Homo sapiens: one gene and its partners. The protein of the gene in region 4 interacts with the protein of the main gene of each other region in a pairwise test. Each region holds a gene or a part of one and is shown on either strand. Other genes may lie near its edges. The genes, in order: TTC3, KIF1A, SYNM and PKNOX1.

Region 1 (3,570 bases), 5.9 Mb from region 4:
CTAGCACTTTGGGAGGCCGAGGTGGGCAGACCACTTGAGGTCAGGAGTTTGTGAAGAGCCTGGCCAACATGGTGAAACTCCGTCTCTACTAAAAATACAAAAAAATCAGCCAAGCATGGTGGCGCACGGCTGTAATCCCAGCTACTCAGGAGGCTGAGGCAGGAGAATCGCTTGAACTCAGGAGGCAGAGGTTGCAATGAGATGGCACCACTGCACTACTCCAGCCTGGGCAACAGAGGGAGACTCTATCTTAAAAAAAAAAAAAAAAAAAAAAAAAAAAAAAAAACCATACCATAAACTTGATGAAAGGACAAATTTCTAAAACTTACCAAAACTGACTAAAAGAAATAGAATACCTGAACAGTCCTATGACTGTTCAACTGCTAATTACTACTAAACCTCCAAGAAGAAAACATTAGATCCAAATGACCTTATAGTTAAGTTCCACCAAGCTTTTAAGAAACAAATCACTCCAATCCAAACTCTCCCAGGGAACAGAAAAAGAGGAACTATTCTCTAACTCATGGTATAAAGTCAGTGTAACTTTAATACCCAAGTCAGATAAGACAGCCAATAAAGAAAAATGAGAAGTGATTCTAGCCATAAACAGACACAAAAATCTAAATAAAATATGAGCAAACTCAATCTAGTAGTTCATAAAAATATAATCTATAAAGACCAATTTGGGTTTATCTCAAGAAAGAATATAAAAGAAAATGAACAGTTTTAAATCTATAAAACGGAATTCATTACATTTAACAGATTAAAGAAGAAAAGACACAAGATATTCTCAACAAATGCAGAAAAGCATGTGACAACTGAAAAGACTTCCCTAACTTAATCAAAGGTATCTACAAAAATTCACAGCAAATGTTATTCTCAGCTGAGAAATATTCTCTTTAAAATTGAGAACAAGAACTCTATGCCCACTATAATCGCTTCTAATGAACAACCCTAATCACTTCCATTGAACGTAAGTATAAAGTATGCCAGCACATTTAAGACCAAAAAAATGAATAAATTAAAAGCAAAAATAACTAGAAGAACTAAAACTGTCACTATTTGCAAATGATATAATTATCCACACAGAAAACACAAAGGAATTTCAGAAAAAATATTAGAAGTAGTAAGTTTATCAAGTGGATGACTAAAGGGTCAATATTTTTAAAAATTCATTAAATTTCTATTTAACAATAAGTTAAAATATTTACTAACAATAAATAAGTTAAGATAGAATCTTTAAGAACACCACCATTTATAATAGCAACAAAAACAATAACATCAGAATTAACATATGAAAAAGTGGAAGACCTCTATGGAGAATATTACAAAACTACACTAAAACTTTACATAAATAGAGATACATACCATATTCTTAAAAATAAAAAGGATCAAAATCTTAAAGATTTCGATTCTCCCCCAAACTGATTCAATTAATTCTAATTAATACCTACAGGGTTTTTCATGTCATGTAACAAGCTAATTCTTAAGAACAAATGACCAAAAATAGGTGAGATTCAAGTCCTCCCCAGATACCGAGATTTCAGGTAAAACTATAGTATTAATGATTAAGACAGTGTGGTATGAACACAGAGACAGACAAGGTGACAAGTGACACAGAAAGGCAAGCCAAAAACAGACCCATGCAGGTAGTAACTAAACATGTAAAAGAGATGGCACAGCAGACCACTGGTGAACAGAGGGCCAATTCAATACATGGTACAGGGATAATTAGAACCACACAGGAGAAAAAAAAAATCAATGTGGATCACTATCTCAGAACATACACAAAAATCAATTCCAGATAAATTATGAACTTAAATGTGGAAGACATCATTTTAAAACCTCTAAAAAGAAACAGAGGAATGTCTTTATAAGCCCAGGGCAAGAAAGGTTCCAATCAGATTATGTTAAAATTAAGAACTTCTGTTCACCAAAATACACCATAAACAGTAGAAAGACAGGCCACAAACCAGAAAAAGATATTTACAACGCACATAATCGATGTTACCAGTTTTAAAAGACAACTCATCAGAACAAAGGGTAAAATATATGACTAGATATTTCATAAAAAGGAAACAAAGACAGTTCATAAACATACAAAAGATGCTCAATCTCATTAATAACAAAAAATGCAAATTAAAACCACAATGATGCATCATTTCATACCCATTCCATTGGCAAATATTAAGTCTGACAATAACAAGTGTTGGAGAGGTTGTAGATCAACTGTAACTCTTACACACTGTTGATCAAAGTATATAAACAGACAAAACTGCTGGCCAAAGTACAAACTGATACAACCCCTTCAGAAAGTAATCTGACATTATTTTGTAAAGCTGATCATTCATACCCCTTGATCTAGCAATCCCATTTCTAGCAAACAGCTTACTATAGTGATACGGCAGTATTTCTTTCTCTTTTCTTTTTCTTTTGCTGCTGAACAAATTAACATGGTGGTATTTCAACCTTTTTTTTTTGCTCGCAAACCACCAAAAGTGCTTTTTAAAATTGCATACCCTTTACCCATTAAGATGACATTTAAAAAATATCACCATAAGATTAAATAATTGCAAAGGGTGAATTTCTAGAACATCACAGTAACATTTTAAAGTAAAACTGATTATCTCATTCTTTTAAATGTATAATTATTACCAGCATATGGTTGGCCAAAAAATATACCCTGATAACATAAAAAAAAAAGCAACTTTATTGGAAATATCTCTCTTAAGGAAATGGATGGGGAAGTGCCAGGATTAAAAGAGGCTTTCCCTAACACTATAGTGGTATTTTAAATTATCCCTTTGTAGGCCAGGCGCGGTGGCCTGTAATCCCAGCACTTTGGGAGGCCGAGTCGGGCAGATCACCTGAGGTCAGGAGTTCAAGACGTGCCTAGCCAACATGGTGAAATCCCGTCTCTACTAAAAATACAAAATTAGCCGGGTGTGGTGGTGCGCGCCTGTAATCCCAGCTACTCAGAGGCTGAGGCAAGAGAATCACTTGAACTTGGGAGGCAGAGGTTGCAGTGAGCCGAGATCGTGCCATTGCACTCCAGCCTGGGCAAAAAGAGCAAAACTTCACTCAAAAAAAAAAAAAAAAAAAAAAAAAATCCCTTTGTTTTCCCCAAGGGAGTTTTCCCCCTTTGGGCAATGCCATAGTAAGATTCCACAAGAACCTGTGGTTTGCCTGTCTTATGTAAAGTGCAATGTTAGAAACACAAGGTAAGAAAGTAGCACTAGCAGGAGGCCTCAGGCATTACCATTTTTAGGAAAGAGTACCTATGGAATGTAATGATCTAGAAACTGATTCATTAACATCATTTGTACCCACACATTCCTTAGCAAATCTTCATTACTCCTCTGGGGCTCATATACCCCAGTGTGAAAATTAGAAAAATTCTTACAACTGTGAACCAAAAAGTATATAACTTCATAACAGCAAAACCTAGAAACAACCAAAATGCCCATTAACAGAAGAATGCATACACTGTGTTATATTCACACTTGGAATATTACACAGCAGTGAAAATTAATGACTTACATCTATACCCAATATTAGTAACTCAGAAAC
Region 2 (3,047 bases), on a different chromosome or scaffold from region 4:
CCAGGGCAGAGAGTTTCTGTGAGTCCCACTGAGAAAATCCCATGGGGTGGGGGTATCCTGGTCGGTCGGCAATGGAGGGTGGCTGGCTTGGTGGTTATTGTCTTCAAGGAGCTCTTCGCTGCTGCATCTGCGGTGTCCCTTTGTTCTTGTCCCATTTCACCCCCTCTGCAGACACCAATGTCCGAGGGCCACCCAGGACAGGACGGGGGTCAGCCCCAAGCTGAGAGTCTGGTCATAGGAGTCATGTCCAGAGGCCTAGGGAGGTTTTAGGGCCCTCCCCACCCACACCCACAGGTCGATTTGGTCTCTTTTTAGCTCAAGGAAAGACAGTAGCCAAGCAACAGAGCCCCTCTCCCGCCGTGGCCCGTGGGAGCAGTTACATCGGGTCTGGTGCTCCAGACCTAGGGCCCAGCACTTTCATCAGATCCTGCCTCCTGGAGTGGGGGAAACGCAGCACCCCACTGGTTCTGAGGCCCCTACCCTCCCAGGCTGTCCCACGTGATGCTGACATGAGCCTCAGAGACCCCAATCCCATGCCTGGGGGAGAGACAGCGGCTCAGGAGTGGGGGAGCACGGGCCTTCTACACCACATGGGAAGGCTCTGGCATGAGGTTTTCCTTTGGGAAGGTTGTTTGGGCCCCTGAAGTTCCATCTCCGAGAGTGGTGTGCAGGGCAGGCCAGGGCCCATGCTGGCTGCAGTCTCTGTGGCTGCCTGCCTGGGCCAGCCTGTTTGGGAGCTGGGACTGTGGGCTCGCCTTTTCGTACCTGGGCTCAGGTGCGGTGTGGCCACCGCCACCCTCATCCCCTGCCTGGGAGGCTCTCCCAGGGGCTGATGGGGGGGTTCTGTGAGGGAGAATCAGGGCTCGGGAAGCCACGCCTGGGAAGGCAGGACACAGGACACAGCAGCTTTCTTTGGAAATCTCCCAGGTGAGGATTCACATCCCAAAATAAAATTCAGAAGCCAGGTGGCCTGTGCTCCCCATGGGTGACCTCTGGAGGCAGTGGACCAAGATGCAGCAAGGAGAGGATGCAGAACAGCTTCTTGCAGAAGCACCTGCTCCGGCATCCAGCGCTGCCTGGAGGCAGGAAGGAGAGGCAGGGCAGGACACGCTGGTCTGAGATGAGGGGGAGCCCCACGGGCCCCAGGCAGGCTAGAGGAGGCACAGGCCCTGCCACGGCCAACTCAGGTCAGCCAGCCTGAGGCTGTGGCCTCCAAAGGGTCTGGGCGCACCCCCCAGGTCGCAGGTGTCTGAGGCCAGCCAACCTGCAGAGCACTCGCGGCGTGGGTGGGCTGAGTGGAGGTGCCTGGGAGCTGCCTAAATTCAGAAGCCTCCACTGCCATGGAGACTGCCTGGCTGTGTCCTCTCAGCCAGGTGCCGTGTTGGCCTTGGCTAGGACCCAGAGCCACACTGCAGCCTCCGCCGACTCCCTCCTTCCGGGCCTGCTCTAGTGAGGAGTGCCTAAGCCAGGACCCAGAAACTCAGAGTTGATGGTGAGAGGAGGCCGCCTGAGTCAGGACACCTGGCTTCTTGAAAAGTTCGCTCTGCCAGAAACCACCTAGGGACCACGTTAGCTGCCTTCCTTGAGCTCCCCAGGAGTCGGTTTCCACATCTGTGAGGTGGAGGGCTGGTGTGGAGGTGCTCATGGGGTGCGGTGCTTGGGAGACAGCCAGGCCCAGGGTGGCTGCTGCTTCCTGCTAAGTGGGGGAGGTGAGACAGATCTGGAAAGCCGTCTCCCTCAGATGGTTTCATTTAATGCTTTATACTGCCGAGTCTGGGGGCTTGTTTTGGTTTGGGGGCAGCCATCCTCCACCAGAAAGGGGGAGCTCCTTCCGCTGCGGCTCCAGATAGATGGGGATGCCGGGCTCCAGGCCGACCAGCACTTGGGATCTGATGGGACACGGCCAGTGCCTAGGGGTGCCAAGTCCAAGGCCTCCCACTGGGAGTCATCGCTGAGAAGATGCCAATGTTTCATCCACCGGCTGCACAGGCACAAACTCCCCCACCCAGGACGGCTGTGATGAGGTGGCCCTCCCTGTCAACCCTGGTCCCTGGAGTCCCCAGCACCTGGGGCCCTGGTGGGGCTGATGTCACAGGTGTTTACTGTGCTGCTGCACTGGTCCTATGCCAGCCTCACCCATGTGGGGACCACGGAAGGCACACTCCCTTACCCCCGGTGCCGGGCCGTGCGGTCCCCCAGACGGACAGCAGCTGTGGCGACCTGCGTTTCTCCCTGGGCCTGTGCTTCCTGTAGTTAGTCCGTCCCCTGGTTCCCCTGTGGCTCAGAGGCCGCGTCCCTGGCTTGTACATATGTGATTGCTGTGGGCACACCCCAGACCCCATGTCATAGCTGCCGTCCCGACGTCACGACGCCTGTCCCGATGTCTTACACCCGAGTGTTAGCCCTAGGCTCCTGTACTGTGCGTGCACTTGAGGCTCTGTCCAATTAAGAAATAAATGTGGCTCTTACTCAACACAGTCCCATGGGCTCTGCTGTGGCTTTATTTGCGTGTTACGTGTGTTGCAGGGCCCCGGAAAATGGCTGTAGGTGCATGCATCCAGCGTGGTCCAGAGACAGTACCCCTCTCCCAGTGATGAGGCAGGGAGGGGCTGGCTCTCGAGGTGGGCATGGGGAGGTGGTGGGGAAGGTGTCGAAGACTGAGTGTACACAGGGTGCTGGTCTTGGAGGATCAACCTCCACCTGCCTCCCGTGACCGGTTGCACCCCTGTGAACCAGCCCCAGGCACCTCCCCAGGGACACAGCACCTACCACCCTCATACCAGGCCACTGCACCCATCCCAGGCAGCCTCAGGCCTGGACCCTTCAGAGTCTCTAGTCCATGGGGTCTGCGCCTGGGCCCAGATCCTCAGAGCCTCCTGGAGTTCCAGAGGCCGCACCATTGCACACGAGGGCCTTAGTCTTGTCCAAGGTATGGCAGGAGTTTGTGGACCAGCGTCACACTGATGGCCGATGGGAGGATGGGGTGACAGCCTTGCACTTTGGGGGACTCTGGGCAGGGCCCCCAGTCCTTAGGAGCCCCCAGGCCC
Region 3 (3,570 bases), on a different chromosome or scaffold from region 4:
TCTGTTTGTAATGCCAGCTGTGGGATCTGTTATCGTTTTTCCACCCTGGGACATAAGCCAGTGATTTTTAAGTTTACTTCTTTGCTTTAAAAGCTAAGGGGTTTTAAACTACTTCAGGACCCTTTATATTCAGGGAACCTAACAGCCATCATTGGCATAGAAATAGAACTGTTATGAGAAGTGGGAATATTTATTGGCTGATCATGCATTTTAAAAAATGATAAATTCTGGCTGGGTGCAGTGGCTTGTGCCTATAATCCCAGCACTTTGCAAGGCTGAGGCGGGAGGATCACCTGAGGTCAGGAGTTCAAGACCATCCTGGCCAACGTGGTGAAACCCCGTCTCTACTAACAATACAAAAATCAGTTGGGCGTGATGGCAGGCGCCTGTATACAGTCCCAGCTACTTGGGAGGCTGAAGCTGGAGAATCACTTGAACCTGGGAGGTGGAGGCTGCAGTGAGCCGAGATTGTGCCATTGCACTCCAGCCTCGGTGACAGAGCGAGACTGTCTCCAAAAACAAACAAAACAACCAAAAAGATAAATTCCATGTGCAATCTTGTAGAGTTCATTCCTTGGTTTCACAGACATATTTATTATGGACCCTCAGCATCTTGCCGGGTGCCTTTGGTGAAGGGATTCCAGCAGCAATGAACATAATATTCCCTCTCCCAGTAGTCTTACCGTTTTTGAATTCTACAAAGATAAATGTTTATAGGTCTAGCTTAGTTTAGTTAATGATGTTCAGAAATAATGCTACTTCCCATTACAAACCAGAAGTTAAAAGTACATGGACTTATTTCAATGTTTAAATACTTGCTTGGTTAATTGTTCCCCAGAGTAACTAACAACTAGGAATAAAACAAAACTGGAAATCGGTGCAGCTGAAGCCCATATGTTTGTTTGAGAAGATACTGTCGACTTCAAATAGTACATTTTGAGGAGGGTGATATGATCTTGATCATTTCATTTTAAATTTAATTGAGCAGCTATGTGCTGTGTGACTTGTATGTGGTGGGCACTGGTCTAGGTCTGGGATTCAGAAGGCCGCAGTATCTCCCTGCCAGGTAGAGAGGCAGGTCGGGGACCCGGCCAGGGGTGAGGGGAGCTGCGAGGAGCACCCAGGACGCCCTTACTAGCTGCACTGTGCAATTACGGTTCATAAAGCAGTTTTATTTATTTTTATTTTATTTTTTGAGGTGGAGTCTCGCTCTGTCGCTCAGGCTGGAGTGCAGTGGCATGATCTTGGCTCACTGCAACCTCCGCCTACTGAGTTCAAGTGATTCCTGTTCCTCAGCCTCCTGAGTAGCTGGGATTACAGGTCTGCGCCACCATGCCCAGCTATTTTTTGTATTTTCAGTAGAGACAGGGTTTTGCCATATTGGCCAGGCTGGTCTCGAACTCCCGACCTCAAGTGATCCGCCCGCTTCGGCCTCCCAAAGTGTTGGGATTATAGGTGTGAGCCACCACGCTAGGCCCAAAAAGAAGTTTTATATCTGAGTCTGTAGTTTGTCATTTATGCCCAGAATGCATTTCTCCCCAGATGATCTTAAAGTAGCTTTTCTAAGTGAAACAAAACTCTGTATCAGTTTACCTGCTTATTGTTGGAGAAATCATGACTTTGGGGAGTACATTTCAGTTCAATTCTGAGTGACTTATGTTTTGAATATTGTAAAACCCCTGATTTCTAGTCTTGGCTTATTTTCCATAGCGTCTTAGTGACTGGTTTGAAGCACTGGCTCTCCTAAGCAGCCTGATGTCTAAACGGTAGAGATGATTTGAATAAACTCCTAAGCATTCATTATTAATAGAGAGTCTGAACAGAGAAGCCAGTGTCCTATCAAAATGTTCCACATGCAATAAAAAACTTCCATATGGAAGAGATACAACATTGGAAACCATCCTGCAAGTGACTGCATGTTTAATAACGCCGGGTGTTTTTCTGGTCTGCTAATAACCCTGGTCTGTTTTTCAATTCGATCCTGAATTGTTGGTACCTTCAGTTCGACCCAGTAAAGCTCCAGTTCTCTGATATAAAAGTCTGTCTATTCTCTTTAGAGAGTGATTGACTGCCTGGAGGATGAGAAGGCAACCCTCACCTTGGCCATGGCTGACTGGCTGCGGGACTATCAGGACCTCCTGCAGGTGAAGACCGGCCTCAGTCTGGAGGTGGCGACCTACCGGTAAGGAGACTGTGCTGAGTTGGCCTTGACGAAGCCATGGGGGTGTAACTTGCACATGAAGGAAACTGGTCTAGGGACCGTAGCCTTTGTGGAGTCACTGTGGCTTTGTGACAAGCAGAGAGCAGCCCTTGGCATGGCCAGGCAAGGAGTCCGAGGCCAAAAGGAAGAGGAAGAGTAGGGCTTGCTTAGGTCACTGAGCAGGTGTCTCCAGCAAGGGAGTAGCTGAGCCGTGCCCCCTTACCTAGTGTTTGTATGTTCTGGGGACTGCTGAAGAGCTTCACACATGTCAACGTGTTGGATCCTAGGAACTGGAGACTGTGTTTACAGATGAACAGACTTTGCTCAGAGAAGTTACAGAACTGGAAAGTGGAGGGCCAGGATGTGTTAGTGTGTTTTCACACCGCTATAAAGATCCTACCTGAGCCTGGGTAATTTACAAAGGAAAGAGGTTTAATTGACTCACAGTTATTCCGCAGGGCTGGGGAGGCCTCAGGAAACTTACAATCGTGGCGGAAGGCAAAGGAGAAGCAAGAACCTTCTTCAGAAGGTGGCAGGAGAGAGAGAGAGCTCAGGGGAAACTGCCACTTTTAAAGCATCAGATCTCATGAGAACTCACTCCCTATCATGAGAACAGCGTGGGGAAAATTGCTCCCATGATCCAGTCACCTCCCACCAGGTCCCTCCCTCAACACGTGGGGGTTACAAATCGAGATGAGGTTTGGGTGGGGACCCAGAGCCAAACCGTGTCACAGGATTTGGACCCAGGAAGTCTGTGTCTATCTGCTTGATTGTTGCTTTGAATCTCAGGGCTCTGATGCCACCCTGTGTGGGTTTGGCCCTGAACTGAATCTCTTCCAAGAGATTAGCATGGTGCATGCTAATGTAGGCCAACTGGCTTTATGTATCAAGATGTTGACTTGAGTTCAAGGTAACCAACTCTGATGAAAAGGTCACAAAGCGCTCAAAGGGGCTGGGTGCTGGGTGGGGCAGAGAATGCAGTCCAGTCCCCCTGGGTGTGGCCTGCAGGCCGGCGGAACAGTGCTCCTCCCCTCCTTGGCATCACCCTCCTTTCCCCTGGGTGCCAGTGCGTCTTTGATTGAGGTGGTGCCCCTTGTTTCCTGGCAGCTCTCATGCTCAGGGCAGCTATGAAGGAGCCAGGGTCTGTGACGCTTACAGTGGAAGGAATTTTAGAGACCCAGTTGCCCAACTTCAGGAACACTAACAATAGCCAGCTTTATGGCGTCCTTACTGCCTGCCAGACGTGGTGCTGAGTTCTTTGCCACTATTCTCTGCTCCGAGTCAACTCTGAGGTGGGCACCACTCTCCCCTCTTAGAGGTGAGAGAGAGAGGCCGGGAGGTTGGGGCTGCAGGCTGGTGAGGGGCAGAGC
Region 4 (3,570 bases):
AACAACATGGAGAGACCCTGTCTCTACTGAAAATACAAAATTAGCCAGGCGGGGTGGCACATGCCTGTAATCCCAGCTACTTGGGAGGCTGAGGCAGGAGAATTGCTTGAACCCAGGAGGTGGAGGTTGTGGTGAGCCAAGATCATGCCATCGCACTCCAGCCTGAGCAACAAGAGCAAAACTCTGTCTCAAAAAAAAAGAAAAAGAAAAAAACTGGACTCACAAAAGTGTATGAGACCTTAAATTTTTAAAACGAGAAATGTGTGGATTATATAAATGTTTTAAAAATCACTAAAATGCCAACTAAAAGCATAACACAATATAGCTTAAAAAATATGTAAAAACGTATGAACATAGCCAGGCACAGGGGCCCATGTCTTTAAGTCCCAGCTCCTTGGGAGGCTGAGGCAGGAGTATTACTGGATTACTTGAGCCCAGGAGTTGGAGACCAGCCTGGACAACATCATGAGACCCTGTCTCTTTAAAACACACACACACACACACACACACACGCACACACACGCACACACGTATGCATGTAAGAAACCCAATTCAAAAAGGGGCAAAGGACTTGAAGAGATATTTCTCCAAAGACATGTAAATGGCCGATGAACATGTGAAAAGATGCTCCACATCACTAATTATTAGGGAAATACAAATCAAAATGACAGTAAGATGCCACCTCAAATCCATTAGGATGGCTGCTATTAAAAAAAGCAACAACACATAAGAAAATAAGTGTTGGGTAAGATACGGAGAAACTGGAACCTCTGTACTGTTGGTAGGAATGTAAACTGATACTCTCTCCTTATTGAGTCCTTGGAAAAATAAAAAATAAATTAAATTAAAAGGAATATAAAACAGTACAGTTGCTGCGAAAAATCGGATGGAGGTTCCCTAAAAAATTAAAAACAGAATTCCAGTATGATCCAGCAATCCCACTTCTAGATCTATATCCAAAAAAATTGAAAGTAGGATCTCGGAGAAGTATTTACACACTCAGGTTCACAGTTTTATTATTCAAAATAGTCAAAAGGTAGAAGGAACTCAAGTGTCTGTTGAGGGATGGATAAACAAAATTCAGTATATCCACACAATGGAGTATTCAGCCTTAAAAAGGAAGGAAATTCTGACACACACTACAACATAGATGAACCTTAAGGACATTATGGTAAATGAGCTAAGCTGGTCACAAAAAGACAAATACTACCTAATTCCACTGGTATGAAGTCCCTATAGTAGCGAAATTCAGAGACAGGAAGTAGAATGGTGGTTGCCAGGGGCTTCAGGGAGGGGAGATGGGGAGGCAGTGTTTAATGGGTATAGAGTTTCAGTTTTACAAGATGAAGGGTTCTGGAGACAGATGGTGGTGATGGCTGTACAAAAGTATGAATGAACTTACCACCACTGAACTGCACACTGAAAATGGTTAAGATGGTAAATTTTGTTACGTGTATTTTACCATAACAAAAAATTGGAAAAAAAAGGCCAGCCACAGTGGTTCATGCCTGTAATCCTGGAACTTTGAAAGGCAACAGTGGGCAGCTCATCTGAGGTCAGGAGTTCGAGACCAGCCTGGCCAACATGGTAAAACTCCATCTCTACTAAAAATACAAAAATTAGCCAGGCGTGGTGGTGGGCACCTGTAATCCCAGCTACTCAGTAGGCTGAGGCAGGAGAATTGCCTGAACCCGGGAGGCAGAGGTTGCAGGGAGCCAAGATTGCACCACTGCACTCCAGCCTGGGCAACAGAGCAAGCCCCTGTTTCGTGGGGGAAAAAAAAGTATGCTCAAATACGTAACTAAATTTAGAAGAACGTAAAGTTTAGCAATTTAATGTTTATTAAACTTTTTTTTTTTTTTTTGAGATGGAGTTTCGCTCTTGTTGCCCAGGCTGGAGTGCAATGGCGCGATCTCAGCTCACCATAACCTCCACCTCCTGGGTTCAAGTGATTCTCCTGCCTCAGCCTCCCAAGTAGCTGGGATTACAGGCATGCACCACCACACCCGGCTAATTTTTTGTATTTTTAGTAGAGACAGGGTTTCTCCATGTTGTTCAGGCTGGACTCGAATTCCCGACCTCAGGTGATCCACCCACCTTGGCCTCCCAAAGTGCTGGGATTACAGGCGTGAACCACTGCACCCGGCCTTATGCTCCTTTTTCTTGTCAAGTTAAATTCCTAACATTTTTAATGCAAAAAAATGTACAAACCTTCATAAAATGTCTGAGAGAACATGTAACAAAACACATGCGCTCACTCAGGCATTATGTTCTGGAAACTGTGATCATAGTACCTACCAATCCACAGCCCCTTTGAGTGACCCAACCCCACTGGCAGGCCCTGCTCAAAGGGGGCCTTCCTTGTGCAGGTGTCAGAAGCTCATTCCTCCCCAAGCACCACTCCCTGGGCCAGGTAGCCCTGCAACACCCAAGGCCAGCCCCCAGCCCGAAGGTCAGCGCCTGGTAGGTGGTGTGAGGGGAAAGAGCACAGGCACTCTCTCTGAGGTGGGTGCTGGAAAAGGGAGAGTACAGGGCAGGTAAGGCTGGGTGAGCCCCCACTGTGAGGGGAGCGTACAGATGGAACAGACAGTGGAGGGCAACCACCTAATTGAAGCGGAAGGCCAAGAGCCCTGGTGCAGAACTGGATCCTGCCAGAGCACAAACCATGGTTCCATCTGCCCAGAGGCCCAGCAACAATACAGTGGTCCCAAGAATCCCATAGACTCCTGTTTTCTTTATCCCTGCATGATCCTGAACCACCTATCTCACCACCCACCCAACTTGAAGTCAGCCTGCTCCCTGCCACCCTGAGAACCCGACTAAAACAGCCAATCATTCCAGCGTCAATCGCAGACGGCAAACAGTACAATTAGCTGGGTGTGATGACACGTGCCTGTAATCCCAGCTACTTTGGGGGCTGTGGCGGGAAGATTACTTGAGCCCAGAAGCTCCCGGCTGCAGTGGGCCGAGATCGTGCCACTGCACTCCAGCCTGGGTGAAAAAGTGAGACCCTATCTCAAAATAAAATAAAATTAAAATTAAATAAAATAAATAATAAAATAAAATAAGCTGCTCTGTCCCCTTCTCAAGTCCCTGAGGCATGGCCTCAGAATCAGAGCTTTAAACAGGAGTTTTATACCACATGCCAGACAACACGTTGACTGAATTACCACACTGCCTTCTATGTGAATCTTCCAGAAACAGTAACTAAACCGGCAGGGGCTAATAATCCAAAACAAGGAGCTACCATCTGCCAAGGGCGGGAACAGGCCAGGCTCCAGACTTTGCACACTGTCACGAGCAGGGCACCGCCAGCACCAGGCCTGCTGGCTCTTTCCACCAAGGACCATGCCTCTCAGCCCTTGAGTGCTTCTCCTAACAGTTTCCAGACTGACCTTCTTCTATGTGATATGTCCACTCTACATGTCCTCCTGAACAGTGTACACAAGACAGAACCATGAGGTATCCACTCAGTGCTGCACACGGATGCAAGATGGTACTTCCCAGGGCCTGCAGCCACTTCCTTCACCCTCACCTCCAAGGACACACACTGTTAGGCTTTGGGTTCCC

What was found.
Region 1: the proteins of PKNOX1 (region 4) and TTC3 interact in a two-hybrid assay, tested with the Homo sapiens proteins (one large-scale study listed by BioGRID and IntAct).
Region 2: the proteins of PKNOX1 (region 4) and KIF1A interact in a two-hybrid assay, tested with the Homo sapiens proteins (one large-scale study listed by BioGRID and IntAct).
Region 3: the proteins of PKNOX1 (region 4) and SYNM interact in a two-hybrid assay, tested with the Homo sapiens proteins (one large-scale study listed by BioGRID and IntAct).

Annotation. Positions count from the first base shown.
Region 1 is NC_000021.9:37,076,234-37,079,803, reverse strand, and holds part of TTC3 (E3 ubiquitin-protein ligase TTC3), read right to left. Parts: intron 1-3,570. UniProt on the Homo sapiens protein: E3 ubiquitin-protein ligase which catalyzes the formation of 'Lys-48'-polyubiquitin chains. Mediates the ubiquitination and subsequent degradation of phosphorylated Akt (AKT1, AKT2 and AKT3) in the nucleus.
Region 2 is NC_000002.12:240,713,197-240,716,243, reverse strand, and holds the end of KIF1A (kinesin-like protein KIF1A), read left to right. Parts: 3' UTR 1-2,477; downstream 2,478-3,047.
Region 3 is NC_000015.10:99,111,534-99,115,103, forward strand, and holds part of SYNM (synemin), read left to right. Parts: intron 1-2,057; coding exon 2,058-2,182; intron 2,183-3,570. UniProt on the Homo sapiens protein: Type-VI intermediate filament (IF) which plays an important cytoskeletal role within the muscle cell cytoskeleton.
Region 4 is NC_000021.9:42,981,026-42,984,595, reverse strand, and holds part of PKNOX1 (homeobox protein PKNOX1), read right to left. Parts: intron 1-3,570. UniProt on the Homo sapiens protein: Activates transcription in the presence of PBX1A and HOXA1.